7 linked regions of the Homo sapiens genome follow. The protein of the gene in region 3 purifies or fractionates together with the protein of the main gene of each other region. This does not show direct contact. Each region holds a gene or a part of one and is shown on either strand. Other genes may lie near its edges.

Region 1 (4,424 bases), on a different chromosome or scaffold from region 3:
TCATACATCTACAAAGATGACCTCATTCTGTAACAGCATGGATTTAACCCGCTCTTCAATGTCACTCCCCCACAGAATGCACTGTTCATCGTCACCCTATCCACTATCGTCAGTCTTACTAAAAGTCAAACATCAACATTAGTAGTAACTCTGGCATTGTAGCGATATCTCCAAGAGAAAATTGTTTTGAACTTTTCTGGGAAAAGTTCACATATGTTTTCTTAAAACGCTAGTTTTTACAATCTCGCTACCATGTGGCTTTCCTGAAGGATTAAATTTCTAATGTCCTTCAACTAGAGAGAGGTAAAAATTTTTCTAGAACATGAATTGCCCACTCCCCTCATTCCTTCTCAGAAACTAACTGAATTCCAGTGGGTGTGCCTGGCAAACCCAAAAGCAGTTTCTGTTCAGGATGCTGGTCTTACCTGTGAAGGCGTTCATGAACGTGGAGAGGGACCGGTTCAACATTTTGAAGAAAGGGTCTCTGCACGGATATTTCTGAGACCCACAAAGGACGGTATGCTCAAGAATGTGAGGAACACCAGTACTGTCCATGGGAGTAGTACGGAACTGCACGCTAGGGAAGGAGAATGACCAGAACGCAAAAGGTTCAGCTTAGTGCTGCGGACACAGTTCCCAGATGCATCATCACCTCAGGCTACTAGAAATCATCATTCTGACACCACAATCCTCCAGCACAGGGTTTTCCAACTATAATGTAAATCATTGACTCAGACTGTAAAATTGTATTTTGATGAGATTATAAGTCAGTGTAAACTTTTCCTTATTTTTCAAGATGCTCTGTCAATAAAAATACTAGTGAGATGATATTTTAAACCACGTAATGTATAGCCATGTTTTAAATCAAGCTTGTCCAACCCGCAGCCTGCAGCCCGCATGCTCAGGATGGCTTGAAATGCAGCCCAACACAAATTCATACACTTTCTTAAAACATTGAGGGGTCCTTTATTTATTATTTTTAGCTCATCAGCTGTCCTTAGTGTTAGTGTATTTTATGCGTGGCCTAAGACAGTTGTTCTTCTTCCATTGTGGCACAGGGAAGCCAAAAGAATGGACATTCCTGATTTAAATAAAAACATTCAAGACCATGTTCTTACAATGCACCACACACCTGAACAGATTATTCGTGTCTTCTCTGGCCAGGTGTAAATACCTGGCTCCTGTGTCATCATGGGTGAGCTTCACTGCAGTCAGGAACAGCTCGGGAACAGATGTCACCTGAGTTAACAAGAAAAACACGACCAGTTAAACTTAGACAAAATGGCCTTTGAAATGGTTATGTTCGACACACTGAGAAAACTGGCTTTTCTGCCTGAAATTAGATGATGCCGGGAAGGCAGTATTTCAGAGCTGGAGAGAAGAGAACCATCTTGTCCAGGTCCCTTATCCTACAAACAAGGAAAGACAGACCTAAAAAAGGCAGATGAGAATATGTGTGTGTGTGTATAGAAAGAGAGAGAGAGCGAGCGAGCGAGCGAGCGCGAGAGCGCACGCGCTTACTACTGGCTAGGTATTTTAGATTTTTTTATTTTTTAAATTTTTTATTCTTTTTTTGGCTAGGCATTTTCTAATCATGTCACATATAATCCTGTGAGGGAGGTATTCTCATACTCATTTACAGACGAAAAAACCGAGGCTCAGGGTGATGAAATAAGCTGCCTAAATCACAGAGCCAGGATTCACCCTGGTGTCTGCCCTTCCCATGGTACCATGCTGCACCTAAGTAACAGAGCGCCCTTTCCAATGTCTGCTGAGTGTCTCCTGCTTTTGTGTGCTGTGCCTCAGTAACACAGCGCCCCTTCCAATGTCTGCTGAGTGTCTCCTGCTTTTGTGTGCTGCGCCTCAGTAACACAGCACCCCTTCCAACGTTGGCTGTGTGTCTGTTTCTGTGCATATCATCTCCTGTAGTGCGCAGAACGGGCCTGCAAGGAGGGGAAATGCTAGAGTGGGCTAGCCTGCGACAGCAGGGAGAGGCTCTAGGATCAGCCTTTGCTTCTCTTAGTTTAGGATGGGTTCTCGGTGGTAGCTAGAAGCACAAAGCTGTGGCTTCCAGAACAGCTGGAGGGGCCGGGAGGATAGAAATGCCCACAAGACAGACGAAAGACTCCCCACTCCTGGGGCGGCGTGGAAGGTCATCTCCTACTTTAGGTAAGCCTCCTGGTAAGTGACCATACTCCTCGGTATGAAAGAAACTGTCTTCTCTTCCAGTCATGCCAGCCGGCCCTCTCCCTCAATCACACACCACGTCCCTGTGATCACCACACCACTCACCACCCCCTCCTGCCAGGTGCCATGAGTCACCTGGCCAAGCGCACACAGTAAGTCGCTGGCCAAGGTCAGACCTCGGGTCTCCTCAGCCCAATCTAGGGAGCCTGCCACGCAACAGTCATGCATAAAGCAGACCACTATGACCTGCATCATCTACCGCCGCGAAATTACTTCTGTTTCCAAGCTCACTGTACTTTGTAACAGATGATCAATGCTTTTGAAGTCAGCAGATACAGTGAGATGTTTGCTTTCTAATAATATATAGCTTTAATAATAATAGCTTTCATGGTAGCTATTTCTCAAACAAGAATCATGACTTATCGTAAGTTTCTATGGCTGGACACAGTGGCTCACACCTATAATCCCAGCACTTTGGAAGGCCAAGGTGATATGGTTTGGCTGTGTCCCCACCCAAATCTCATCTTGAATTGTAGTTTCCATAATCCCCACATGTTGTGGGAGGGACCTGGTGGGAGGTAATTGAATCAAGAGGGCGGTTTCCTCCATGTTATTCTCGTGACAGTGAGCACGTTCTCATGAGAGCTGACGGTTTTATAAGGGGCTTCCCCCTTCACTTGATCCTCATTCTCTCCCCTGCCGCCCTGTGAAGAGATGCCTTCCACCACGATTGTGTTTCCTGAGGCCTCCCCAGCCATGCAGAACTGTGAGTCAATTAAACCTCTTCACTTTTTAGCTCATACTTTATAAATTACCCAGTCTTGGGTATTTCTTCATAGCAGTGTGAGACTAGACTAATACACAAGCAAAAGGATTGCTTGAACCCAGGAGTTTGAGACCAGTCTAGGCAACAAAGTTTCCATCTACACACACACACACACACACACACACACACACACACACACACACACACACAATTAGCCAGGCGTGGTGGCACCTTGTCCCAGCTACTTGGCAAGAGGATCGCTTGAGCCCAGGAGTTCGAGGCTGCAGTGAGCCAAGATCATACCACCACACTCCAGCCTGGGCGACAGGGTGAGTCCCAGTCTCAAAAGTAAATACGTTTCTATAAAATTTGAGAAATAAAGGAGGAGAATCTACCGCTGTGGGTGAGGCCCTTATTAACAGTAACCTGTACCATAAACCCAAGTGTCTTTGCCTGGCCTTTGCAGGATTTCACAAACGCTCCAAGTCTTTTCATGAGTCCCATGCCTGGACCTTGTCTGGCGCACCCTAGTCACTGCCCTGGCTCCCTTGCTGGAGCCCTGACCGAAGGCAGCCACGTTCTCACACCACCCTCTCCAGGAGCTCTTCCCTCTGCCCCCAGCAGCAGCAGCTCCCACTCCTCCTCCTGCCCTTGTCCTTGGCCCTCCGCGTGGCGTCCACCATGTGCCTCCGGTCACAGCCGCAGCAGTCTTTCTAGACAGTAAGCTGTTTGTCTTTCACGTTTGCTATAACATCAAGCATAGCACAAAGCCAACAGCTGGCCAAATACATGAAGCGTGTCATTTTCAGTTACCATGCTAAATAGAAACAATGCAAAAGGTTTAGGCAAAATAACAAAACAAAAACCAAATGAATCTATTTTAATACAGACCCAAGTAAGTACAGGTCCACAATTGCTTCTTTATCATTCTGAAACCCGAATGGCTCAGAAAACTGAAAGGTTCTGCGGACGTTTAGAGCAAGCTATTTGATGGCAAAACCTGACTAAACAGATCAGGGCAGTGAGTCTTCATGCTCATGCTCAGTGAAACATCAGGTTTGGCTGCAGAAACGCTAGTGTGTCTGATTACAGAGACCCAGCTGGAAGTGTTACTCTCTAAAATCTCACAAGAACCAGGCTTTGCGGGATTCCAGGAAGGGACTGGGGCTCATTTCACTCACAAGCTCTGTTCAGCCGAGTAGCTGCCACACAGCAGGAGCTGGGCCAGGGCCTTGGGACACAAGGACAAAAACGCTAGTCTCCGCCCTGAAGGGCTCCGTACATAGGCCAGAAGCCGCACCTGCAATGTATGTGGATTTATAAGGAGGTGCCGAGGACGACCCATACCTGGTTTACGGTGAATCCATGGATCTTGTCTCCTAGTTTATACTGCAGAGCCCTCTCACAAGCCCGGTTACTGTTCCATCGCCACGCTCTGTGGTGTGCATGTCTAGATTAAAAGTCATCTAAG
Region 2 (4,424 bases), on a different chromosome or scaffold from region 3:
CTGAATGCCTGTTATAATGTCTACCCAGATCTAAGCTAGTGGTTTTGCTAATAACTTGATTTTTAAAAGTGAAAACAGTTTACTTATCATAATTTCCTGTATTAAAGGTAAGCCCCTCTGGCACATGGTTGATAAAATACTGTCATACACATGAAATTCATAGGGCATTCCACATATACTCTGTGTGCTTCAGTTTTGCATGACCCCACAATTGGAACTACAGTTGCATCTGATTATCATGAGGCATGGAATCAGCACTGTGGTACAGGATGAACTTTAACACAAAGCACTAGTGTCTTCAATTACTAGCATATCTAATGTCCAAGAAGAACAGTTTGAGCATTTTTAAGAGACAAACAGAAGAACTTTAAAAGCCACTAATCACTACTATTGTCTCTCCTTCTTCTAAAGTTAGAAGGACATAAGAATGAACTTGTGATTATGTTTCTGACCTAGGTTTAAAGCTTATTCTTCAAATAAGGTTAAATCACATTTTCAAAAGGGAAAAAATGAAAGAATAAACCCTTTCTTGTTAGGAAAAACACTCATTGTTGGGGAGGGAAGCACATATTTCAAGTGTGTAATTTTTACACATTTATAAATCTTAAAGAATGCTAAAAAAGATTCAGAGATTTAGAGGTAGACAAAACTGAATGAAACCCTCATTTCTGCAGTTGAGCGCAGGTGCTTCCCATTAAACTACACTATTTGCCCCAGAAAAATAGAAAAGTGATTTCAATCAACTGAATAGATGTAGGAAATTTTTATGTTGCAATTTTTTCTAGTAATAAAACTGTGACAGCATAAATAATATGAATCCACCCCCACATTTTTTAAGCCAGTTTATCTTTTTCATTTAATCCCTATTTCCATCAAACTTTCCCTTATTTCAGTCCCTGTGTGCCTTTACTCAACAGAATTCTTACCAGGACTGTGAGGTCGCCACCTCTCTCCATCCCTCCTTGATCCAGCTAGTCGCCAACCTCCATCTTCATCTTCTCCATTTTGTTCCTCTCTAAAGATGCGCCAATTTTCACTTTCTGAGCGTATAAATTCATGCTTTCTCCCTACTGATGTTGGTCCACCTTCCTCAAAATTTGGTCTCCCTATAAAGAAAATAATATGGTAAGTAAACATGAGCCTCTGCCAGTATAGGCTTTGAAAACAAACTTCACAGCTCAAATCAAGCTTTCCTGCAAATGGGTCCATTTCAATATTCAGAAAAAAATCACTAAAATAACAGTGGGTATATGTATATATTATTAGACACATTTCTTAAAGCCATGTTCAGAGACTGGGCAATTTTTTTAAACAAAAATATTATGTAAAATTTTTTTTGAAAAAGCGTACAATGAAAAGTCCATCTTCCTACACAAGACCCTCAGAGTCGTACTCCCCAGAAGGAACCATCACCAAGTTTCTTATAAAGTCTTTCCAAACACTGTCCATGGGTACACTTACACATGTATACATAGCTCCCTCATCCACACACACAAACGCCACCCTCAGGATGTTATAAATGTTGTTTTGTTTGCTGTTTTCACTAACAGTGTATCTTGCCAATCCTTCCTTACTAGCACATACTTTTTAAAGTTATAAGATATTTTTCATCATACAACATACTTTATATAACCAACACCTACTGGTGATTCTGCCTAAACATGATATCTGTACATTTCAGGCCGTCTTTCATTCCAAAACAGATTATAAACTGAAAAGCAGGCCGCGTGGTGGCTCACGCCTATAATCCCAGCACTTTGGGAGGCCGAGACAGGTGGATCACGAGGTCAGGAGTTGGGAGACCAGCCTGGCCAATGTGGTGAAACCTCATGTCTACTCAAAATACAAAAATTAGCTGGGTGTGGTGACAAGTGCCTGTAATCCCAGCTACTCAGGAGGCTGAGGCAGGAGAATGGCTTGAACCCAGGAGGCGGAGGTCGCGGTAAGCAGAGATCGCGACACTGTACTCCAGCCTGGGTGACAGAGCAAGACTCCGTCTCAAAAAAAAAAATTGAAAAGTAGTATAACCTCATTTACTCTAGCACCTAATACAATACAGGCATACCATAAATTGCTTTTGGACAGAATTTAAAGCTAAGCTATGTCTAACCTAATGTCTCAAAAGTTACATTAATGTCAAAAGAGAGCCTGGTATACCAAGTAAACTAAACTGGTATTTTAAAAGGACAAGATCATTCTAAATTGTGCAAACAAATTCTTCAGTCACCATTCCACATGTGCTAACATATATAACTCATAACATTTATAAAATCTCACATCAAAATAGTTGAAAATCCAGAATAACATACATTGATGTCCTCAGTTTATAACAATAAAAGTTCAAGTTCTCATAATGACAAACTCAATCCTTTTAATTAATCCATACTAAAAGTGAAAAAATAATTGAACAACAGCATATGAAAATGAAATTCTAATTTCTGGTCATTCTGTTATATTCCATCTTACATATATTGAGATTCAGCATCCTGCTTGTCCATATGGTTGTTAGTCTGCTACTAGGTATCATTCTACTGAAAGATAAAATATCTTGGGAGAATGGAAGACATGATCTGCTGCTTTCTTATTGTGGTGGACAGCCTCTAAGAGCTCACCAACAATCCCTGACTGCTGATCTCTGTGGAATCCTCTACCCCCAATTATAAGCTGGACTAACAGAATGCAGCTGAAGTGATGAGATGCCACTTAAAATATTAAAGAAGACTGTAGTTTCCATCTTGGACACTTTCTCTGAAGGACACTAGTTGCCATGTAGTGACACAGACCTCGTGGAGAAGCTTGCATGGCAAAGAACTGAGACTTACCACCAGAAACATGAGTGAGTCTGGAAGTGGATCAAACCCCAGTTGAGCTTTGAGAGACTGCAGCATGGGCTGACACCTTGAGTGCAGCCTTACAAGAACCCTGGGCCAGAACCACCCAGCTAGGCTAAGCTGCTTCTAGATTCCCAACCCACAGAAACTGAGATAATAAATGTTTGCTGTTTTGAACCACCAAGCAAGGGTTTTATTATCTATGACCTTGCTCTTACCTGCAGGACGTGTCTGGAATGTCAGAACTATATTCTGGCTTTCCTTGGTTTATTAGTCCATTTTGCATGGCTATAAAGGAATACCTGAGGCTGGGTAATTTATTAAAAAAAAAAAAAGAAGAAGAAGTTGTTTATTTGGCTCGTGGTTCTGCAGACTATACAAGCATGGCACCAGCATCTGTCTGGCTTCCAGTGAGACCTCAGGAAGCTGTTACTCATTGTGGAAGGTGAAGTGAGAGCAAGTATGTCACATGGTGAGAGAGGGAGCAAGAAAGATGACAGAGATCCCAGACTCTTGAACTCATTACAGTGGGGAGGGGATGAGGGATCCACCCTCATGACCCAAACACCTCCCACCAGGCCCCACCTCCAACACTGGCGATCACATTTCAACATGTGATCTGGAGGGGACAAACATCCAAACTATATCACTTGGTTTACCAGAGAAGTCATAATCTAAATCTATTGTAGTTATTATGTAATATCTGATATATCAAAAACCATATTGCAGCTTTTATAAATTATTTTGTGGCCAGGCGCGGTGGCTCACACCTGTAATCCCAGCACTTTGGGAGGCTAAGGCGGGCAGATCACGAGGTCAGATCAAGCTAACACGATGAAACCCCATCTCTACTAAAAATAGAAAAAATTAGCCGGGCGCGGTGGCGGGCGCCTGTAGTCCCAAGCTACTCAGGAGGCTGAGGCAGGAGAATGGCATGAACCTGGGAGGTGGAGCTTGCAGTGAGCCCAGATCACGCCACTGCTCTCCAGCCTGGGTGACAGAGCAAGACTCCGTCTCAAAAAAAAAAAAAAAAAAAAAGAAATTATTTCGTGTAAGTAGCTAGAACCTCAGGCACATGCCACCACACTCAGCTAAATTTAAAATTTCATTTTATTTAATTTTTGCAGAGATGGGGGTCTTGCTATGTTGTTTAGGTTGGTCTTGAACTTCTGGCCTCAAGTGATCCTTCTGCCTTGACCTCTTAGTAAATTATGTAGAAGGGCACTTCTGTATAATTTATTCAGTTTCTTCATCACTTATTTCCAACTGTTGCCCTAAACAGGCTTTTTAAAAATGTGATCATGTTATGAGAAAATCCTATCCATTTAATTTCAGGGATGCTGAATTTCAGGGAGCTAAATTTTTGATCCTTGTATGTAATTGTTACTGGTACGTAAGTAAATTTTATTGATACTACAAGTAAAAAACTAGATCTGAGGCTGGGCGTGGTGGCTCACGCCTGTAATCCCTGCACTTTGGGAGGCCGAGGCGGGCGGATCACCTGAGGTCAGAAGTTCGAGACCAGCCTAACCAACATGGAGAAACCCCGTCTCTACTAAAATACAAAAAAAATTAGCTGGGCATGGTGGCGCA
Region 3 (4,326 bases):
GTGTGTGTTTTGGGTTCAAGACACCTTACTGCTGTACAGCGCTGACGGGTTCACGTTGAACACATGGCTGGTGGCTCTGTCACCCACACCTGAGCACAGCTTGCACACACAGGGTGTCCCCATGAGGCACATCATGGCCTCCTGGTGCTGAAGGAGACGAGACAGTGCTCTGCACAACGCTTGGGGCCTTTTAAACACAAAATCACCAAGAGCAGAAAGATGCAAACACCGTGCCCCCACTAGACTGAGAAAAGGACGCTTGCTCATAAAATGAGCCGAAGTGAGAAGACAGAGTGCGGCCCTTCTGAGGACCGTCTGCTCAGGGGCGCCGCAGTGCTGGCCTCTGGGGTTTTTGTGGATCTTAGTAGGCGAGTTTGAAAACACGGAGTCCAGGAATGAGGATCGACCGTGTGTCCACCTTTCCTGGCTTCCCTGCCACACTGTTTGCACAGCACTCGTAGCCAGCACACGCGTGTGCACATCCACACAGGTGCTCACACAGGTGCCCACGCACGTGCCTGCAGGCCTGCTTTGCATGCTGCTTTCTGCGTGTCCCTGGCGCCTGGCACGGCGAGTCCCTTGGTGCATTCCGTCGGGACAAGGAGTGTGGCTGCGTGGTCCTTGGAACAGAAAAGCCTCGGTGTTGCAGAGAGGACCTTGAGGATCACCCAGGAGTTCCCTCGCCGTTGGCTGCCTGCCATGGTTCCAGCGGGACTCAGTCAAGGGCTGTGCTTTTAGGGAAGGTTCCACACACACACGAGCAGGGAGATGCAGCATGCCTCACAGCGTCCCCACCCGGACCTGGCCGTCCCCAGGTCCCAACCCCTCGGGGTGCGGAGCTTTCAGGGAGCAGCAGCTCTGTGGCTAGAGGAGAAGCGTGGGTGGCCTCCAGGGACGGGGTCATGTGGCCGGCATCTTCAGGTGTGTCCTGCTGCCACCGGCAGCCAGCAGCAGCCCAGGGGCCTCCGGGTCCCGGTCGTTTTCCAGTTTTGGGGTGGGAGGGCCGGGCCCAGCGCATCACCTGTGCACTCGCCCTGTTTGCACTGTGGCAGCTGACACGGGCCAGGCCGGCGGGAACGGGCTAGGCAGGACCTGGGCACTCTGAGGCTCTGCCCCATCCCTGCAGGCGGAGTTCGCCATGTTCAGCGGGACCCACGTGGAGCGGGACTTTGTGGAGGCGCCGTCGCAGATGCTGGAGAACTGGGTGTGGGAGCAGGAGCCGCTGCTGCGGATGTCGCGGCACTACCGCACAGGCAGCGCCGTGCCCCGGGAGCTCCTGGAGAAGCTCATTGAGTCCCGGCAGGCCAACACAGGTGCACCCGCCCCGTCCGGGGAAGGGTGCTAACCTCGGGGGGCGGCACACAGCTGGGGCCTGGCATGTGCCCCGGGTGGGGGTCGGAGCTCTGGGCAGAGTGGGCCGGGGCAGGTGCAGAGGCCAGCTCTCTCCTTCCCTCCCGCCCAGGCCTCTTCAACCTGCGCCAGATCGTCCTCGCCAAGGTGGACCAGGCCCTGCACACGCAGACGGACGCAGACCCCGCCGAGGAGTATGCGCGGCTCTGCCAGGAGATCCTCGGGGTCCCGGCCACGCCAGGTAGCCACCCTTGAGCCGGGCACACCCTGGAATTTGGAGCCTCAGCTGCTTCCCTGGGAAGGTGAAGGGAGTTGGTCCCCATGCTTCACTTAGCAAGTGCAGGAGTCCCTGCTGGGGAGCCACGGAGCGCGTCCCAGGCTCCTCGGGGGACAGCCCCAGCTGAGATGCAGCTGCAGGCCCAGGGTCGGGGACGGGTGTGCGGCCCCAGCCCCCAGGAGGAGTGTGTTCCCTGGAGCCTCTGCTTTGAATGAAGCTGGCGTTTTCCTGATTGAAATGTATGACACATGCTTTGTAAAAAGCCTGGAGAAGTACAGGAAGGCCTAGGAATTTCCGATCCTAATGATGAGAAGTGGGCCCTGTTTCCATGCTCACCTGTTGTCCTGTGTGCATGTGTGTTCACACACGCTTGCGAGGATCCAGAATTTGGAAATACAGCATGATTTTAACATGGGTGGTGTTTTGCTGGCTTAACACTCCATAGACTTCAAAAATCTTTCCAAAAGCGTTTTCAGCAGCGTGGCCTGTGATGTTGCGTGGGCGTGCCTTGCTTTATTGACGCAGTCTCAAAATGGGGACTTTGCTCTGTGGCAGCTGACAGCCCCGTTAAATGAGCTCCTGTCCTTCCAGGAGAGGGGGCGGAGACTTGTGGCCCTCGCTTTGTGGCTGACTCTGGTTCTAGAAGTATCCAGCTGGTCTCGGCCCTCACCGTGATCCTCCAGCTTCTCCCTGTTCCGGGCAGGGGTCTCAGGAGTCTGGCTGGTTGTCTTCTCCTGGAGGAGGAGCATGGGGTGGGGGCTACAGCGTGAACCCTGCCATGTGTCCGCCCCAGGAACCAACATGCCTGCAACCTTCGGCCATCTGGCAGGTGGCTACGACGCCCAGTACTACGGGTACCTGTGGAGCGAGGTGTATTCCATGGACATGTTCCACACGCGCTTCAAGCAGGAGGGTGTCCTGAACAGCAAGGTACGCGGGGACTGGGGACAGGGAGGGCGTCCTGAACGGCAAGGTACGCGGGGACTGGGGACAGGGAGGGCGTCCTGAATGGCAAGGTACGCGGGGACTGGGGACAGGGAGGGCGTCCTGAACGGCAAGGTACGCGGGGACTGGGGACAGGGAGGGCGTCCTCAACAGCAGGGTGGGGCCGAGAAAAGCACACCTTTGGCCTGGGCCTGGGTGTGCCGGGTGAGCCATCCCGGCCGAGGCACCTGCTGGTCTTGGTGCGGTGCTGCCCACAGCTCCTCCCTGGGCCCTGCAGGAAGCTCCACACTGGCCCCTCAGGCCTCGGGCTGTGAGTGCTGGGAGCTCCGTGTCTTCCCATACGAGTCCTTCCGGGATCTGCGTGATCGGCCTCAGAGCCATGGGCTGAGACAGACCCTTCTCTGGAGAAGGCTTGGCGTTTGCCATTCATTTGCTCCTCCAACCTCCAGTTTCCTCACTATGAAGTGCGGCCGTTACGCCATGTGAGCCTGTGCCTCCCGCTGACTTGGTGTGACCCAGGCTCGGGACAGCCGCCAGAGTCCCTCACAAGGAACAGGTGGCTACCAGCTTTGAGGGCCGGCCCTGCCCTGCCTGGGTGCAACATTGCACTGGGCAGCCTGCAGGTACCTCGGAGCCACCAAGCAGGCACTCAGCTGCTCCCTTTATAGAGGTGCAGAGGCCAGGACCTGGGGGAGCAATGGTCCGACAAGCCCCCTGTCTTCACAGCCCAGCAGGGACCTCCCCCCTCCTGAGGCAGCCTCCAGCAGCTCCCCCTGCTGCTGAGGTGAGGGGGTCCCACCTCTGAGGACCGGCCGGGGGCTGTAGAGGTGGAGTCCCCCGGGTGGGAGCTGGGACTGTGGCTCCCTGGCTCTGCAGCCTGCAGTCCGCGCAGGCTCCTGCGGGGCTCTGGGGCGTCGGGGTCTCCTTGGTGGCTGGCACCGGCGCCTCGCAGTCTCATCTGCCTCACCTGCCCGTAGTCCCGCAGTCACAGGGCTGGGCTCAAACCTGGGCCTTTAGGGCGGCCCAGAGCGCGAGCGGCTTCCACATTGTCCAGCCGGAGGCTCAGCCACTTCTGTTCATGGGCTCAGCCTGGGATTTCAGTGGGGGCTGATGGCGGGAGCCACCTCGGGAGTTTGGGGAGTTCGGGGCTCTGCTGGCCCCTCAGTGCACACCCCCGCTCTGAGATTCTGATGAAAGGCACCTGCGCTCTCCCACCTGTGCTGATGCAGGCGGCCCCCGGGCCTCCCTGGGAACCTGGAAGGGGTTGCTCCGAGGCCCCCCTGGGCGAGGGTGTGCAGACTCCTGGGGTCCTCTGCCTTCCTCCCTGGGTCCCCACCCGGCCACAGTGCCCTGTCTCCTCGGCAGGTTGGCATGGATTACAGAAGCTGCATCCTGAGACCCGGCGGTTCCGAGGATGCCAGCGCCATGCTGAGGCGCTTCCTGGGCCGTGACCCCAAGCAGGACGCCTTCCTCCTGAGCAAGGGGCTGCAGGTCGGGGGCTGCGAGCCCGAGCCGCAGGTCTGCTGAGGCCTGGCACTGCGACTGCCCAGTCTGGCCTGCGCTCCCGCCGCCCTGGTGCCTTAGCCCCCGGCACAGGATGGGGCAGGCTCTGGCACAGTGCCTGGGACTGGCAGGGTGGCTGAGCGGCTGTCTTGCCTCTTGTCATTGTCTGTCCCCACCCGGTCGTGGCCCACCCGGCTAGAGACGGCGTCCTCAAGGCATCTGGAGGGCTTTCGTGGCTGCCAGGGCCTGGT
Region 4 (4,424 bases), on a different chromosome or scaffold from region 3:
CAAAAGATAAGAATAAAACACATACAAGTTGGAAATTTCTGGGCCATGAAAAAAAAAACATGCAAAATCACATTATTGCCAACATGACTTACTTGATCCCCATAAGCATGACGACCTATGATGATAGGTTTTACCCATCCACTCACAAGCCGGGGGATATTTTTGCAGATAATGGCTTCTCTGAAGACCGTGCCACCCAGAATATTTCGTATGGTGCCATTTGGTGATTTCCACATTTGTTTCAACTTGAACTCCTCAACCCTCTTCTCATCAGGAGTGATAGTGGCACATTTGACGCCAACATTATGCTTCTTTATAGCTTCTGCAGCATCCTTGGTGACTTGGTCGTTGGTGGCATCACGATTCTCTATGCCTAAATCATAGCTTGAAAGAGAAAAATTAGAAGCAAAGTTTTTCAGACAAATGGATAGTTATAACCTACAACTGCAGTGATGGCATATAGAGCTCATTATGCAGAAAGCGAAGGCTCTGAGTACACCAAAATCTGCCAAGTTTTAGCACTGGCACACCCTAAACACAGAAGATGGGTGCCAACTACAAAGAGAACTAAGAGAGGCTAGACTGCTGGGCTGCCCCTCCTCTTGTAATGGGAAGCTGTCTATCAGGAAAATGAATGGAAACCATCAAACTCTGCCCTTTGCCTCCTGTTTTTCACCAGATAGAGGCAATAATGGCCTGGTTTCTCTCCATATAATTAGTATAATAAGTGTAAGTCTAAGGACCACCTTTTTCCCTTAGTAAATATTGCTCTTTAAAAATAAAAGGGGGTGGGAGGGGTTAAAGGATTTTTTGTATTTTGACGTTGAAGTGGTGGGAGGTAAAGATGTGACAGTTGATGCCAAAAATGCGAATGACTACTTCATTAATGCCAGTTAGTCATAAAATGAGCCTTTCCCTTTTTTTTTTTTTTTTAGATGAGTCTCGTTTTGTTGCCCAGGCTGGAGTGCAGTGGCACGATCTTGGCTCACTCAACCTCTGCCTTCCTGGGTTCAAGTGATTCCCCCGCCTCAGCCTCCCCAGTAGCGGGGACTACAGGCATGCACCACCATGCCCAGCTAATTCCTTCTGTAATTCTTGAGCAAGTGTTTGCTCTGGAAACAAGCCTACAATTTATTGGGTAAGTAAAGGAATCCATCAATGGTTTTCTACATACCAGAGAGTAATAGCTTAATATACACCAACACAAAGATTGCAGGTCATTCAGAGCTGAAAGAATGTTAGTTGTCCAGGGAGCATAGAAAATGACTGCAAAGCTTTATTTGAAGCATGCAATAGTTTGTTAAAAAGCAAGAAAACAAAATAATGTTTTGTTTATTCTGTTCTCCAAGGATTTAAAAGGTTTTTCAGCTCTTAAAACCTGCCTCTAGATTTCTTTTTGGTTCCCTTATCTTCCTTTCTTAGATCTCCTACCCAACTCATGATGCAAACAAAGAGATAGTAATCTTGACATATTTCCAAATAAAAATAACTTCCAACTGCTTCGACTTTAGATAATTCATATAAATCTAACAAAGTCATGTCCTTTGTTATCTTCTTGCATAGGAAATGTTGATCCAATCCCAACTCCAACAGGAAGTATGATCAGTAGTTTTCAAGTTCCTAGGAACCATTTCTCATAAGGAGAATCTATCAGCAAATTATTAGATTTTTTGCTTGTCTTCTTAACATTTCTAAGAAGATAAGAAAGGAAGGAACAAATTGCCCAGACCACTGTCCAGCCTACATAAAACAAACTACCTGCTCCATTCTCCTGAAAAAGAACCAGTCAGTGATAATAATAGGAATTTTGGAAAAATTTAAAACTTGTTTGAGCCTCCAAAAATTATCTAGTCTGCAGCCACCAAATTTTTTCCTCCTAGTCATAGTGACTCCCCTTTAAAACTCCTCATGATTCCACACTAAAGAGGCTCAAAGCATCTTTAGTTGCAGCCATTATAAGGAAAAGAACCCTGCCAGTTCACCTACTGTCATGTAAAGTCCTGAAACAGGAGTTCCTAAGATGCTTTTTTTTTTTAACCTAGTTGGAAGATGTTTTTATGCCTAATTTCTTATGTTTGGTTGACTTCTGCAAGTATTTATATCTTATCATGATTTCAATATAGACATCAGCAGCTTAGGTTTAGAACAATTAAAAAGTATGTTTAATGACATTATGTGAATTAAATGTCTCCACTCAAACAGGTCCTTAGGACAAATTTTGATGACTAATTCTGGGCTGAGGCAAACACACTTAGAGTTGCCAATAGTTTGGCTGAAACGTGTTGCTCAATATTTTTCTATGCCAGTCTTCAGCCACTTTACCCTTTTAAAAATTCTATCTCTACCTAAAGGTACAAAGAACAGAAGCAAGTTTATGAAAAACACAGCGAAAAAAATGAGAGAATTACATAGACTTTTGCATCTGTCCCCAGGCACTTTACACACAGGGCAAAGGGACACAGGATTTAAGGGAATTTTGCTGGAAAGGAGGGGTTCAACTAAGAAACATCATGAATTCTTTCTGCACTACAATTGTATGAAAAGGGCAAAAGGTGAGGCATGAAAAGGAAACAGGTCCATTGACTAAGTAAAGTGATAGAAAATTGAGTTTGAAATGACAAAATTGTGTTAACTGCATTTAGTTTACTGTTTCTTACATCCTCTCTTATTTCCCTTTTCTCAATACATTGTACTATTCTTAGCCACTGTTTTATTACAAATAAAACCTTCACAGGAAACAGAAGGTTAGAAGAATCTGAAAATCATTCTTTCCCTTATAATTCTTGACTTTTAGATGATAAATCCAGTTTTTCTAGCAGTATGTTAAAATTAGAAGATTCATCTGAATATATTTAGGCTTAAAACAAACTTTATTCACAAAACACAGCTATATCTATATAAAAAAAGCTAACTTCACCTCAAAATAATTCAGATTATATTCTTTTTTTTTTTCCTGTTTCTCCTTCCCTTTTTTTTCCTTTTTTTTTTAAAGTGATGGGGTCTCACTCTGTTGCCCAGGCTGGACTTGAATTCCTGGTCTTGAGGGATCCTCCTGCCTCTGCCTCCTAAGTAGCTGGGACTTCACGTGTGCACCACCATGCCCAGCCAGATTATCCTTTCTGAGTTTGCTACACGGAGGGGTAACTCATTTACCTATGTAGATCCAATTCCACGTAGGGAAAAATGAGTTTCTCTTTAATCAATTCCCAAATGATTCGTGTCATTTCATCTCCTTGCATCTCTACCACAGAACCGCCACTGATTTTTTTGGACATTTTGACTTCAATAAACCTAAAAAGAAAAAAAAAATACATGCCTTGTCATTTATTTCATTATAAAGTGAAATATATAAACAACGTAGTGTTTATATAAACAACGTAGTGACTACTAAAAGAACAATTCATGCAATTCAATTTATGTGTAGTTGAATAAAAAGCTAGTAACAGCAATTCTATTTACCATTAGAATTGAGTATCTTCTCTGAACAAAGTATTGTGTTATGTTTCACACGCGGTTTCTGAGCTAGCCCTCATAACAATCCAAAAAAATGGCCATCATTTCCCCATTTTACTTTGTTAAAAAAAAAAGAGCTTTCCCAAGGCCACCTAGCTAGAGCGTGGCAGAGCCTGACCCTATAACGTGCCCTTCATAATGCAATCATTATTCTCAACTACTGGTTTGTCTTAAGAAATGAGATTATTTCCACAATCTCATGTTTATTGAACACTTCAGTCCAACTCATCATTTTACTGGGCTCTCAAGATGTCCAGAATGGTGAGTGCTAGCATTTCTCCTCCTTTAAGAGGCTGTTTTTGTTATTTAATAAAAATAACTAGCCATGAGGAGATTCAGCTGGTTCCTGTGACCCATATTCAGGGAAACTTTAAGTCTAAAAGCGAGACGAAGAATTCCTGGTGGAACTGTTTTCCTAGAGATAACACAGACATTGGAGATGTGGGGCTAAATACAACAAAGTGATTTCTCAATTAGAAGAATCTCTATACAGTAGGGCCACTGCCCAGGACCCAAGCATGTCCCTGTCATCTTCTTCTGGCTGTTCACAGGCAAGGGTAAGCTGCTAGTGAGTGGGATAGGACAAACTGTGCATTGTCCTAGGAAGACAGCACTTTAAGGATAGGGTGTGGGGGTAGCATATACAAATCAATCTGATTCTCAGAAAGTGCAAGGTTGGACGCTTTGGAAGAAATGAAACTGTCCCAGCTTGTCCCTAGAGGCAGAAGAAGCTCTGAGCCTGCTAAAAGTTATCTATTCCTTCTAATGATGCTCTAATCGAAACTCTTTTTTAATCCAACAACACAGCTGCAAATTGCTTTTATTCTCTTAAGGACTAAAAAAGTCAAGAGAATTGACTTTAAAGAATTATTAGATAAGAAGCCTAAAATAGTCTTTCTTGAAAAATTGAG
Region 5 (3,977 bases), on a different chromosome or scaffold from region 3:
CAGATCATCCTGACAGCCCCCACTACCTGAGCCTGGGCTGCGGGCCAGTGCGTCATCAGGGAGTCTTCCTGGAGCCCTGGCCTCACTTCCGAGTTCCAGATGTCTCGGAGTCTAGAAACACTGGCTGAGCGGGGGATGCAGGCGGCTCCCCTCCAACGTCACAGGGCTTGGCAGAACGTAGCCACGACGGGCACGCCATGTTCCCCGAAGAAATGCCTTCCTCAGGCCGTTAGTTACCCCTCTGGGGTCTCAGCTGGCAGCCGGTGCTCCACGGTGCTCGGAGTTGGGGCGCTGCTCCAGGCCGGGGGTTGGGCCCAGCGCTCACCGCAGCCAGGGGAGGGTTGGGCCGTTCCACTGAGCGGCAGGGCGGGGAGGAGGGGCAAGGGCGGCCCCTCCTGCAGACGGTGGTTGCTATGGGAACCCTGGGAGGCGCCAAGGGAAAGGGCAGCCCAAGGACGTCCATGGATGCCCTGGCCTGGACGCACAAAGGACACTTGCACAAAACAAACTTTTAACAAACTTTTATTAACAAACCTCGCGTAGAGCCAACTCTAACCCGACTAACAGCAAAAACAGCATTGCTAACAAGATCAAGGATGGAGGTGCAGACCCAATAAAGACCGTCTCTTAAAAAAAGGACTGGGAAAAATATATATATATATATCTGCATGAGTACTTCTTAAAAAACTAAAACTTTCCAGTGTTGCAGGAAAAAATATCCCAAAGTGATTTCAGTCGGTTAAAAAAAACAGTACTTGGCAGTCTGTGCTGCCTTAAAAACCCCAACTGGACATAACCCTAGGAGAAAATCACCCCACCCCATAAAGACAAAATTCCCTTTTCTCCTCTTCCTTGTTCAAATTCCACTGCTTATTCCACCAACACCCAAGGAATAACAAGACCCAGCTTACTTCTCTCGGTCTCTTATCTGATAAAGCTCACAGCAATCTTAACCTCTACTACAATCAGGAAATTGAGCCCTAATTTCTGGGCCAGATTCTGGAAAGTTGCAAAACATCCTTATGCTGCGAGGGGCCTGAGGACTCCTTCAAAGATCAAGGGGGCAGTGGAACTGGCAGAGACTGGCATGCCTGCCCTGCAAGGCTGAGACAAGGGGACCTTTCTAAGCAAAAACACCCCAACATCTGTCACTGAAAGTCTAACCAGGCAAAACCAAGGAGCAGCAGGCGCCAAACTAGGGCTGTGCCTGAAAGGTGCACATCTCCCCTGTTTCACCATAAAGGCAAGGGAGATAAAGAGAGCCAACTGAGTATTTGACCTCATCTGTCTTCTGCATATTTTAGGCCGAAGCCATGTTGCAGAGAAAGACATTTGGTCAAAGGGTAGCCTTTGTTGTTTGTGGTTGGATACAGCTGCCATTCCTGGACAGCCTGGTTCATGGCTGCTTTCTGGAAGCTTTTCCCCCTTATGCAGAGTACTTAAGAATTAATAGGAAAATTTTCAGTGGAACTTCGTAACTGGCAAATACGTTAACAGCAGCTTCTCAAAGGCCACCCCTCAGCTGATGATCACAGCTCCTTCCAGTCAATGGGCTTCTTGCCAGACTTCTGCAGCAGCTCATTGGTCTTTGAAAAGTGTCTACATCCAAAGAACCCTCTATACACTGACAAAGGGGAGGGATGAGCCGTCTGTAGTACATGGTGCCGCTTCTGAAAAAGATCAAGAATAAATGGTGGCAGATTTGGGACTTTTTAAATTTTTTTTTTTTTTTTTTGAGACAGAGTCTTGCTGCAGTGGCGTGATCTCGACTCACTGCAACCTCCGCCTCCCGGGTTCAAGCGATTCTCCTGCCTCAGCTTCCCAAGTAGCTGGGACTACAGGCGCGTGCCACCACACCCAGCTAATTTTTGTATTTTTAGTAGAGATGGGGTTTCATCATATTGGCCAGGATGGTCTCGATCTCTTGACCTCGTGATCCGCTCGCCTTGGCCTCCCCAAAGTGCTGGGATTACAGGCGTGAACCACCATGCCCGGCCGGGACTTTTTTTTTTTTTCCCCAAAAAGGAAGGACTGTGGCTGTTGCACTTTAAGACCCTGTGCGATTCCCCTTTGCCCTCTAAATTCTCCCCCTTCCAAAGTGGAGCATTCAGCATTTGCATTAGAACATTAGTCCGTTTGTTGAGCAACTACCTACCTTTGCTAGGCTCTGAGATGCAAAGAGCACCACCCTCTGCCTTCAAGTTGGCAATTATCTATGCAATTTTCAAGTGTCCCTATCATACTGCCAGCAATTTCCACTGCTAAGACTGTATTTGCTAAAGGACACCATGATGCATACACACACAGATAAACTCCTCAACTTATTAACACAATGGATGGGGTTAACATCTTGGAAAACCCATCCTAAGTAGAAAATATCCTAAGTTGAAGATATATTTATGACATATAACCTGCTGAACATCATAGCTTAACCTACCCTACCTTAAACATGCTCAGAACACCTACATTAGCCTACAGCTGGGCAAAACAAAGCTTCTTTTACAATGAAGTGTTTAGTACCTCATGTAACTCATTGAACACTGTACTGAAAGTGAAAAATAGAACGGGGCCAGTCACGGTGGCTTACACCTGTAATCCCAGTGCTTTGGGAGGCCAAGGTAGGACAACTGCATGGGACCAAGAGTTTACAACCAACTGAGGCAACATAGCGAGACCCCATCTCTACAAAAAAATTAAAAAGTTAGCCAAGTGTGATGGCATGCACCTGCAGTCCTAGCTACACAGAAGACTGAGGTGGCAGGATCACTTGAGCCCAGGAGTTCGAGGCTGCAAAAAGCTATAATTGTGCCACTGCACTCCAGCCTGGGTGACAGAGCAAGATCTTTTTTTTTAATTTTTTATTTTTTGAGATGGGGTCTTACTCTGTCACCCAGGCTAGAGTGTAGTGGCATGACTGTGGCCCACTGTAGCCTCCACCTCCTAGGCTCAAGTTACTCTCCCACCTCAGCCTCCTGAGTACCTGGGACCACAGGTGCGTGCCACTACACCAGGCTAATTTTTTGTGTTTTTTAGAGACAAGGTCTCACTATGTTGCCCAGGCTGTTCTCAAACCCCTGAGCTCAAGTGATCCGCCACCCTGGCCTCTCAAAGTGTTGGGATTACAGGCGTGAGCCACTGCTCCCAGCCAAGAGACCCTGTCTCTTAAAGAAAGAAAAAAAAACAACGTGTGAGTGCTCAAAGTATGGTTATACACCATTGTAAAGTCGAAAAAAATCAGGTCAAACTTCATAAGCCAGGGACCAGTTGTACCTACACAAATAGGTACATATAAAGGGACTGACACACTGCTTATGTCAGCTAAAACCTAGTATACAATTCAGTGTTACAGAACTGGCTAAATGTATTTTTCTAAAGTTCTTACAATGTAAAACCACATAACTCCTAGAAAAACATGCGAAAGATAAATATACTGATGAGATGACCTCCAAAATTTACCAAGTGAACAAAATGCAAAATAATTTCATTTTTTAAAAACTTTAGAAAAATACCCAAGACACTGTATTTAGTAGTTCCTTTAAGAGAAAGAGTGGAAGCCATTTACTTTCCATTTTGTGCCTTTCTGAACTCTCTGAATAGTCTTACAGCTCCTAAGAAGGAAGAATTAAAAAACAAAAACAAAAACAAAAAAATCTCGCCACAAAAATGGAATAGTTGGCCGGGCGTGGTGGCTCACACCTGTAATCCCAGCACTTTGGGAGGCTGAGGTAGGTGGATCACCTGAGGTCAGGAGTTCAAGACCAGCCTGACCAACATGAAGAAACTCCGTCTCTACTAAAAATACAAAATTAGCTGGATGTGGTGGTACATGCCTGTAATCCCAGCTACTCAGGAGGCTGAGGCAGGAGAATCACTTGAACCCAGGAGGGGGAGGCTGCAGTGAACTGAGATCACGCCATTGCACTCCAGCCTGGGCAACAAGAGTGAAACTGTCTCAGAAAAAAAAAAAAAAAAAAAAA
Region 6 (4,424 bases), on a different chromosome or scaffold from region 3:
ATGCTTCCCAGAAACATAAAAAATAAAATAAAACACTGCTCTAAAGTATGTGACTGACAGTTTATCTTTAAACTGCCTGGCTAACTGCATATGTGACTGACTTTTTTGAGAAATTAAACAGAAAAAAGCAAAACACTGCAGCACCACACAGTACCAATGATCACCCTCTGCCATACTTGCTTCAGGTCTTTCACCCGTTTAACTTTTCAATGACAGAAAATAAACATCACAAATCAGGTGGAAGGTCCTGTGCAGCCCATCCTTCCCCCAGCACCTTTCCTCCCTGGAAGATATTGAGAGGTGACAGCGTGCTGGCAGCCCTCACAGCCCTCGCTTGCTCTCGGCACCTCCTCTGCCTGGGCTCCCACTTTGGCAGCACTTGAGGAGCCCTTCAGCCCGCCGCTGCACTGCGGGAGCCCCTTTCTGGGCTGGCCAAGGTGGGAGCCGGCTCCCTCAGCTTGCTGGGAGGTGTGGAGGGAGAGGCGTGGGTGGGAACCAGGGCTGCGGGCAGTGCTTGCGGGCCAGCGCGAGTTCTGGGTGGGCATGGGCTCAGCGGGTGGGTGTGGGCTAGGCGGGCCCCATACTCTGGAGCAGCCAGCTGGCCCCAGGCAGTGAGGGGCTTAGCACCTGGGCCAGCAGCTGCTGTGCTCAATTTCTTGCTGGGCCTTAGCTGCCTTCCCACGGGGCAGGGCTCCGGATCTGCAGCCTGCCATGCGGGAGCCTCCCCGCCCTCCCACCCCCACCCATGGGTGCTCCTGTGTGGCCCCAACCTCCCCAAGGAGCGCTGCCCCCTGCTCCACGGCGCCCAGTCCCATCGACCACCCAAGGGCTGAGGAATGCGGGTGCATGGCAGGGGACTGGCAGGCAGCTCCACCTGCGGCCCCAGTGCAGGATCCACTGGTTGAAGCCAGCCGGGCTCCTGAGTCTGATGGGGACTTGGAGAACCTCTATGTCTAGCTAAGAGATTGTAAATACACCAATCAGCACTCTGTATCTAGCTACTCTGGTGGGGACTTGGAGAACCTTTGTGTCTACACTCTGTATCTAGCTAATCTACTGGGGAGGTGGAGAACCTTTGTGTCTAGCTCAGGGATTGTAAACGCACCAATCAGCACCCTGTCTAACAGACCACTCGGCTCTCTGTAAAATGGACCAATCAGCAGAATGTGGGTGGGGCCAGATAAGAGAATAAAAGCAAGCTGCCAGAGCCAGCAGTGGCAACCCGCTTGGGTCCCCTTCCACACTGTGGAAGCTTTGTTCTTTCGCTCTTTGCAATAAATCTTGCTACTGCTCACTCTTTGGGTCCACACTGCCTTTATGAGCTGTAACACTCACCGCGAAGGTCTGCAGCTTCACTCCTGAAGCCAGCGAGACCACGAACCCACCTCGGGAGGAATGAACAACTCCAGGTGTGCCGCCTTAAGAGCTGTAACACTCACCATGAAGGTCTGCAGCTTCACTCCTGAGCCAGCGAGACCACGAACCCACCAGAAGGAAGAAACTCCGAGCACATCTGAACATCAGAAGGAACAACTCCGGACACGCCGCCTTTAAGAACTGTAACACTCACCGCGAGGGTCTGCAGCTTCATTCTTGAAATCAGTGAGACCAAGAACCCACCAATTCCAGACACAATATCCCTATCTTGAGTCTGGAGATGGATTCAAAAAGCAACAGAATTTCAAGTCTAAGAGAGTAAGCCTTTAGGATAGAACTCCAGAAGGTGATCCCTCTTCACTGGAAGACCCATAACTATGTAACTGTGTCTCTTCCCAACCTCACCCATAGAACCTGAAGGCTTTCTAGCTCAATCTCTAACACTCCAGCCCTCTCCACCTCCATGTGCCCCACTCCCCAGCTAGGAAAGTGAATACCCAGCCCAGAAAGGTTATTGACAAGAAGTTCTTTGTGGGGTGTAAATATGGTGTAAGTATGAACAATCATTAGGAACATGACTCATGGTTCCAGGCCAGCTCCTGGCACTAACTAGCCACTTGACTTAGGACAAGCCCCTTCCCTCTCTGGATTAGTTTCCTCATTTGTAAAAGATGGAGATTAAATTAGTCTCAAAGTGATTCTCTAATTCTACAGATCTATAAATTAAAATGGCTGTAATTATTTGCAATAAATAATAGCAGCTGCTATTTACTGTGCATTTACTATATACCAGATAATGTGCAAGGAATACTGCAGTTAATGCATTTAATCTTTTCAATAATCCTATACGATAGTGTTATTCATTCCATTTTACAAATGAGAAAACTGAGGTTAAAAGATGTCAAATGAATGGCCCAAGTTCAGACAGCCAGTAAGTAGCACTTAAGCCTCAAGTCAGAGCTCTTAACCGCTATGCTACACAGTCCACTGCATTCTAAAGGATGTCTTCACTTTACAAAAGGACTCAGCAGAGACCTCCTTCACAGGATGAACTGGCTGGCCACAAGGTCACAGGGTTTACTACTGCTGCTTCTTCCTTTTTTTTTTTTTTTGAGACAGGATCTCACTCTGTCACCCAGGCTGTAGTGCAGTGGTGATCACTGCAGCCTCAAACTCCTAGGCTCAAGCAATCCTTCTACCTCAGCCTCCTGAGTAGCTAGGACTACAGGCACATGTCAACATGCCCAGCTAATTTTTATTTTTTACTTTTTGTAGAGATGGGGTCTTGCTATGTTGCCCAAGTTGGTCTCAAACTCCTGGCCTCAAGTGACCCTCCTGCCTTAGCCTCCCAAAGTGCTGGGATTACAGGCATGCGCCACCACATCTGGTCCAACTACTGCTTCTAAAATATCACTTGCTCTGAAAGATTAGTCACACCTCTTTGTAGTGAAAATGTACTTGGTCCAGGAAGGGGCTGGTGGGCTGTCAGAAAACTGAGCCTCATCAGATACTGCTTTTCCAGCCTTTAATTCACTCTCTGCCTCCTGGAGAAAGGCTCAGGTGATAAGTAAAAGATAAATGAAAAGCTACAAATTTTCCTTTCCAAGCATGCATAATTTTTTTCCATATAAAAAAAGGATAGGAGGAAAACAAACCAAAAAAACCAACCTAACCAGTCCATGAATCACTGTACCCAGGGCAACTTTTTTTTTTAAACCCAGTTTTCCTTATAAAAGGCTTAGGAAATTGTCCAAACCTGCCTGGCCTAGCTCAGGGCCTGGTGCCCTACCACAGTTTTTATTTATCTGCAGCAGTCACGAGCAAAGGAATTAATCCATGTGTGAACACTTAAATAGGAGTTACCCTGAAGTAAAAGCTCCATTTTAAAACTCAAGAGATGTCAACAGCATGGAGTGGTGTCCCCTCCTTCTCAGCAGAGGAGACTGATGTGCCTCTAGATCAAGGGCTTCTGGATGCCAGGAAAGCTCTTGGTGACTTTCACAGCTGTTACCCATGTGATCACAACAACCCTACCAGTAGGGTGTGGTGTGGTGGAAACAGCCACCTTCCAAATTATACTTAAATCTCTGTTGTCACATGCCAGTTTTGTGACCTTGACCTAAATAGCTCTAAGCCTGTTTCTTCATCTAGAAAGCAGGGATAACCCCGACCTTACAGAGTTACAAGAGAACAGAAACGTCATAAAGCATTTAAAGGAGTCCTTCAGTGTAACACATAGGAGTCCCCCCAAAGCAGTTCCCTTCCCCTGCTTCTGGGGGCATGCATTAACTCACTGCATCCTCAAAAACAACCCTGAGAGAGGTTACAGATAAGAATGGAGGCACCTAAGTTTCAATCTCCTGTTTGTGACAGAGTGGAAGGACATTTAAGCACAGACCTACTTTCCCTCACACCCAGGAAGCCCAGTCCTATTACTTCTTAATAGAAACTGACAAGTTGGCGCTACCAATCTGACACATCTGGAAGGACTTTAGACTCAAAGTGGTCCTCTGAGGTTATGTTAACCCCTCATTAACTTGCTTTGACTTGTCTAATACTCCAGATTCCTAAAGGAGAAGTGAGACTAAATTCCTTCCCCTACTAGAAGGTGACTGCCCCCCGCCCTTAGGAAAGGGGCCACATTTGGTCCAGCTTTGCAGGCTCGGGCCCATCACACAGCAGGCAAAAGTAGGTGTTGATCCTTGTTTGACTTTCCAACCCTGTTGAGTAGCCAGGCATTCCTCTGAAAGGATATGGCTCCATAACTCTGCATCCTGCAGTGTCTGGGCATAAGGCTTTCTGTGCCATGGGTCTGTAAACAGAAAGGGCAGAGAGCTAAAAATCAAGAGTCCTGAGGGCTGGCTCCAATTCTGTCATGGCCAGACTGAGCAACCGAATACTGACTGCTCAATCTCATAGTTGAAAACCAGGCTGAGGCCCTGATCTCCCTCTTCCATGCTATACCCCTAAACAATGCTTATGATGAAAGCAAGATCCACAGAAAAGAAATGGAAGCCATCAGCTGGGCTACAACTCCCTTCAACAGC
Region 7 (4,424 bases), on a different chromosome or scaffold from region 3:
CAACATGATTTTTACCTATGTCTGTGTGTATGTTAACATCTATTTGCATGTATGTGTATGTGACAAATATACACCAATACAAATATAACAGATAAAGTTCATTTAATGTATTTACTTTTTTACTTCAATTAAATTTAATTCAGTTCTTTATAATCCCATCTTTGAAATAAAAATGTGACTCTCAAGAAATGAAACTGATTGTTTAGCCAGCATACTGGAATTTAAATAGCTGATTTGGTCCCCTTCTTAGGAGATCATCTTCTTATTTCAATTATCAAGACATTTTTACAACTTCTTCTTTGGAACTGACTTCAGAAACACATTTAGGTGCCACAAGAAAAGTAAATAGTCCTTGATAACCAACATCATTTCTGAAAAAAGAAATGACATACAGCAATAGATTTTTCTACCAGTAGCTTCATCTATTCATTCAGCCAACATACATTGAGGGCCAGTCCTGTGCTAGGCCCAGATTTCGATTTCCAAAAACCAAACCTAAGGCTTTAAAATGTCAGCATGCAGGATATTCACAACGTATGGGCTCAAGCTCAGGAGACTGTTTCAAAATAAAGGTCAGGAGCTTGAGACCAGCCTAGCCAACATGGTGAAACCCCATCTCTACTAATAATACAAAAATCAGCCAGGCATGGTGGTGCACACCTGTAATCCCAGCTACTCGGGAGGCTGAGACAGGAGAATCACTTGAACCCGGGAGGCGGAGGTTGCAGTGAGCCAAGATTGCACCACTGTACTCCAGCCTGGGTGACAGAGCAAGACTCTGTCTCAAAAAAAAACAAAAAAAAAACAGTTCTCAAAATGCTTGCATAGGAACTTTGTTAGAATATGTTCATTAACTTTATAGAAAACGACTTTCATTTATTTGAATATCTGAACACTTTTTTAGAGGTAAATAATATTAAAAATTAGTTACATTACTAGTCACACCATATAAGGTATGTGTGTGAAAGTATGTATTTACAGAAAACCAAATCCTTACATGTCACATACAAAGCAGATTGTTAAAGCTGAAAGAGAAAAAAGTTGTGTAAATCTGTATTGCTTAAAGAAGAAAGAGCAGAGACAACTGAAAACAGTTTATGAAAATATAGACTTGTCCCTAATATTGTAAAAATAATCAAGAAAAATACTCATTAATTGCTTGTATCTTAATGGACATAACACTACCATAGGTCTAACTGAATGAAAATTAAGTGAACATTAATGGAAAATACAGAAATTCAAAATTATAACTACCAATTCACATTTGAAAATTGAGATTCCTATATAACCCATTGGTCAGCCTCCCAAACATTGTTTGCATTGTGGAAATTCAGGGATAAGTAAACAGCTGTATAGTACATACATCTCCTATAGCTACACCCATAACCAATTTTGCCAATCACAGGCCTTGCTTTATTGACAGCTCTCAACACCAAACAAGTTCTTTTTCCCCAAAAGAAAAAAAAAAACAAAACACGAAAATGTGATACCTGACTTCCCATGCTTAAGCACTCAGTAGGAATAATAAACACCATCACACCCTTACTTAGACAGCGTTTGCCACATGCTAGGTACTGTATTCACACATTCATTCCCCCCAGCAATGTAGTAAGTCACATGGGAGGAGTCAAGGAAAATAGGATCAGCTGTAAGGACAACACAAGTGGGCAGAGAAGGTTCGAGGCACAGTACTATAGACACGCAGTGGGGAGAAGCGGAGGCAGCGAGACAAGGGAATTCTTTCTGCAGTTTGGCAAAGAGGATCCTGTGCTCACCAGCTGGGGTGCAAACGGACCTCACCATCATGGTGTAGCACTCACTGCAACATCAACTGAGGCCATAACAGAAAACAGCCAAGTCACCACAATGAGGTTTATGCAAGTGGCACGACAGGAGCAGATCTGTGGAAGAAATCCTCCTATATTCACTCTACAGAGTCCCAAACAACGAAAGGCAAAGTACGTAAAAAGTTAACAAAACTAAAAGAAAAAGTGGGCACTCAACAGGATTTGAAAATAACGAGTACAGAAGAATGAACACTGACGGGCACAGATTGAGACAGTCACCCTGCATGTTAGCAAGCTTACACAAAAGCAGCTGTTCAAATAATTTCACAGATTCTGAGTCACTGAAGAAACAAAGATGGTGTCATATAATGCACCTGCCCTAAATTAAAGCCCCTAGACCATGTTCTGTGAGTACGTGTTGATAAAAAGAGCTCAAGGGGCCCTATTTCTAACCTAAATGTTCACTGAAAAGAAAAAAAATTCTTTGTAAGCAAATTCATTGGAAGGAGTCATGTAAGTTTCATAAACTGAGTCAGGGCCTTCAAGGCCTTACAAACAGCCTTTGGCAAGGGCTATATCACAGCCTCCCTGGGCAGAGTTCCTCATCTGCAAATGAAGGATGACATGGTCATTTCTGATACCGTCCTACACATACCTGGGAAGAGCAATGAAACGCTGCTGTCTGGGCACCTTGGGGATAATAACAACCATATTTCAAGTTAGCCTTAAAATCTTTTCATCCTCTGGGCCTTTGGGAAGAGCCAAACAGAAACACTCATCATATTTTGTCTGGCCCTAAAGCTACAGCTCACTAAATAACCGTAGTCACAGATCTTGTGTGTTTTTTCTTAAAACTTAACTGTGTTAAGTGCCGCTTAACTGTGAAGGAGTTCTAGCACCTACCCTCTGCACTCTGATCACAATTATCTACCCCCAAATAGACTACATATCTACTAAGAGCTATAATGTGGACTATGTACCTCCAAAAACCATATTTACAGGAATCCTTTGATGAAGCTGTGGCTTCCTTATTTCTAGAACCATCTTGACAACAAGGAATGACTGCTTATGTTTAGTATTCACTCAATCCTCTATAGGAATTAGTCGTGGCACAAACTAAAACCATGTCAAAGTAAGATTTTTGGGAAAAAAACTTATTAGCTTAACCAAAAGTTAAGCAATTTTGTTTTAAAATGAAAAATTACTCAAATGGCAAGTATAACAAAATATAAATTCTGATTTTCACATTTCTGTTTAACAACTTCAAAACCCAATTTAGAGCATTCATTCATCAGCAGAATAAAGAGAGAGAATTCTAACAAATGTCCAAAGCTAAGGGGCCTCACTGCCCTGCTGCACACAATTTTAAACTTTAGGCTTCTAGATGGATCGCTGAAGAGATGACCGAGGTAAATCTCTCAATTCTACACTTTATTCGTCAATGCACCAATTAGAAACAGTAACCTGTCACCATGAATTTACTTTCCCCTTGTAATAAATATCTGTTAAACACTAAACCCAGCAAATCTCTGTTAAACACTAAACCCTGTAGCATCGTGTTCAAAGCTACTCAGAACTTGAAGAAATCTAAATCTGCCCTTGAAGAAATCTAAATCTAAGAAAGCACTCATCCTGAGGCCAGGCACAGTGGCTCACACCTGTAATCTCAGCACTTTGGGAGGCCGAGGCTGGAGGATCTCTTGAGCCCAGGAGTTTGAGACCAGACTGGCCAAAATAGGGAGACCCCATCTCTAAAAATAAAAATTCAAAAATTAGCCAGGCATGGTGTCGCACAGCAGTAGTCCCAGCTACTTTGGAGGCTGAGGTCGGAGGATCGCTTGAGCCTGGAAGGTTGAGGCTGAGGCTGCAGTGAGCTATGACTGTGTCACTGCATGCCAGCCTGGGCAACAGGGTGAGACCCGTCTCAAAAAGGAAAAGAAAAAAAACAGTGAGAGAAAAAAGGGAGAAACACAACCAAGGGCTCACGAGCCTGTATGCAAAGAAAAACAATTGCAAGATAATGAGAACAAAAACAATTTGGACACAGGTTTAAATAATTCAGATCTTGGTGGGCTTTCTGAACTATATCTCAATTTTATTTTATATATTTATTTTTGAGATGGAGTCTCACTCTGTCACCCAGGCTGGAGTGCAGTGGCGCAATCTCGGCTCACTACAACCTCTGCCTCCCAGGTTCAAGCGATTCTCGTGTCTCAGCCTCCCAAGTAGCTGGGATTACAGGCACGTACCACCATGCCCAGCTAGTTTATTGTATTTTTCGTGGAAACAGGGTTTCACCATGTTGGCCAGGCTGGTCTCGAACTCCTGACCTCAGGTGATACACCTGCCTCAGCCTCCCAAAGTGCTGGGACTGCAGGCATGAGCCACCATGCCCAGCTTATATCTCAATTTTCAACTGCTAGTATAATCTCTAAAACACATCTTCCATATACAAAGCACTTAGAAAACTGCTCTGCATGGTCTTCAGATTTAAGGAGTCACTTTATGAAGGAGAAAAATGACTGGGAAAGTAATATACACTCCACTGCCTGCATCCCCACCCCCAAAAAAACAAATTATTCCTGTGCCCATGAAAGCATTTCTAGGCAAAAATCTTCAAAAGGACTCATGGGGGCT

Evidence for each region.
Region 1: the proteins of THOP1 (region 3) and PITRM1 fractionate together in Homo sapiens (co-fractionation; one large-scale study listed by BioGRID). This does not show direct contact.
Region 2: the proteins of THOP1 (region 3) and GIGYF2 purify together in Homo sapiens (affinity purification with mass spectrometry, with the first as the bait; one large-scale study listed by BioGRID). This does not show direct contact.
Region 4: the proteins of THOP1 (region 3) and IDH1 fractionate together in Homo sapiens (co-fractionation; one large-scale study listed by BioGRID). This does not show direct contact.
Region 5: the proteins of THOP1 (region 3) and UNG fractionate together in Homo sapiens (co-fractionation; one large-scale study listed by BioGRID). This does not show direct contact.
Region 6: the proteins of THOP1 (region 3) and EXOSC7 purify together in Homo sapiens (affinity purification with mass spectrometry, with the first as the bait; one large-scale study listed by BioGRID). This does not show direct contact.
Region 7: the proteins of THOP1 (region 3) and TTC39C fractionate together in Homo sapiens (co-fractionation; one large-scale study listed by BioGRID). This does not show direct contact.

The regions. Positions count from the first base shown.
Region 1 is NC_000010.11:3,165,804-3,170,227, forward strand, and holds part of PITRM1 (presequence protease, mitochondrial isoform 2 precursor), read right to left. Parts: intron 4,404-4,424; coding exon 4,301-4,403; intron 1,240-4,300; coding exon 1,133-1,239; intron 578-1,132; coding exon 426-577; intron 1-425. UniProt on the Homo sapiens protein: Metalloendopeptidase of the mitochondrial matrix that functions in peptide cleavage and degradation rather than in protein processing. Has an ATP-independent activity. Specifically cleaves peptides in the range of 5 to 65 residues.
Region 2 is NC_000002.12:232,783,832-232,788,255, reverse strand, and holds part of GIGYF2 (GRB10-interacting GYF protein 2), read right to left. Parts: intron 1,107-4,424; coding exon 927-1,106; intron 1-926. UniProt on the Homo sapiens protein: Key component of the 4EHP-GYF2 complex, a multiprotein complex that acts as a repressor of translation initiation. In the 4EHP-GYF2 complex, acts as a factor that bridges EIF4E2 to ZFP36/TTP, linking translation repression with mRNA decay.
Region 3 is NC_000019.10:2,809,178-2,813,503, forward strand, and holds part of THOP1 (thimet oligopeptidase), read left to right. Parts: intron 1-1,126; coding exon 1,127-1,313; intron 1,314-1,462; coding exon 1,463-1,591; intron 1,592-2,420; coding exon 2,421-2,557; intron 2,558-3,937; coding exon 3,938-4,099; 3' UTR 4,100-4,326. UniProt on the Homo sapiens protein: Involved in the metabolism of neuropeptides under 20 amino acid residues long. Involved in cytoplasmic peptide degradation. Able to degrade the amyloid-beta precursor protein and generate amyloidogenic fragments.
Region 4 is NC_000002.12:208,248,277-208,252,700, forward strand, and holds part of IDH1 (isocitrate dehydrogenase [NADP] cytoplasmic), read right to left. Parts: intron 3,292-4,424; 5' UTR 3,276-3,291; coding exon 3,154-3,275; intron 385-3,153; coding exon 93-384; intron 1-92. UniProt on the Homo sapiens protein: Catalyzes the NADP(+)-dependent oxidative decarboxylation of isocitrate (D-threo-isocitrate) to 2-ketoglutarate (2-oxoglutarate), which is required by other enzymes such as the phytanoyl-CoA dioxygenase.
Region 5 is NC_000012.12:109,107,522-109,111,498, reverse strand, and holds the end of UNG (uracil-DNA glycosylase), read right to left. Parts: intron 1,671-3,977; coding exon 1,530-1,670; 3' UTR 507-1,529; downstream 1-506. UniProt on the Homo sapiens protein: Uracil-DNA glycosylase that hydrolyzes the N-glycosidic bond between uracil and deoxyribose in single- and double-stranded DNA (ssDNA and dsDNA) to release a free uracil residue and form an abasic (apurinic/apyrimidinic; AP) site.
Region 6 is NC_000003.12:44,982,532-44,986,955, reverse strand, and holds part of EXOSC7 (exosome complex component RRP42), read right to left. Parts: intron 1-4,424. UniProt on the Homo sapiens protein: Non-catalytic component of the RNA exosome complex which has 3'->5' exoribonuclease activity and participates in a multitude of cellular RNA processing and degradation events.
Region 7 is NC_000018.10:24,083,964-24,088,387, reverse strand, and holds part of TTC39C (tetratricopeptide repeat protein 39C), read right to left. Parts: intron 372-4,424; coding exon of another isoform or gene 366-371; exon of another isoform or gene 86-365; intron 1-85.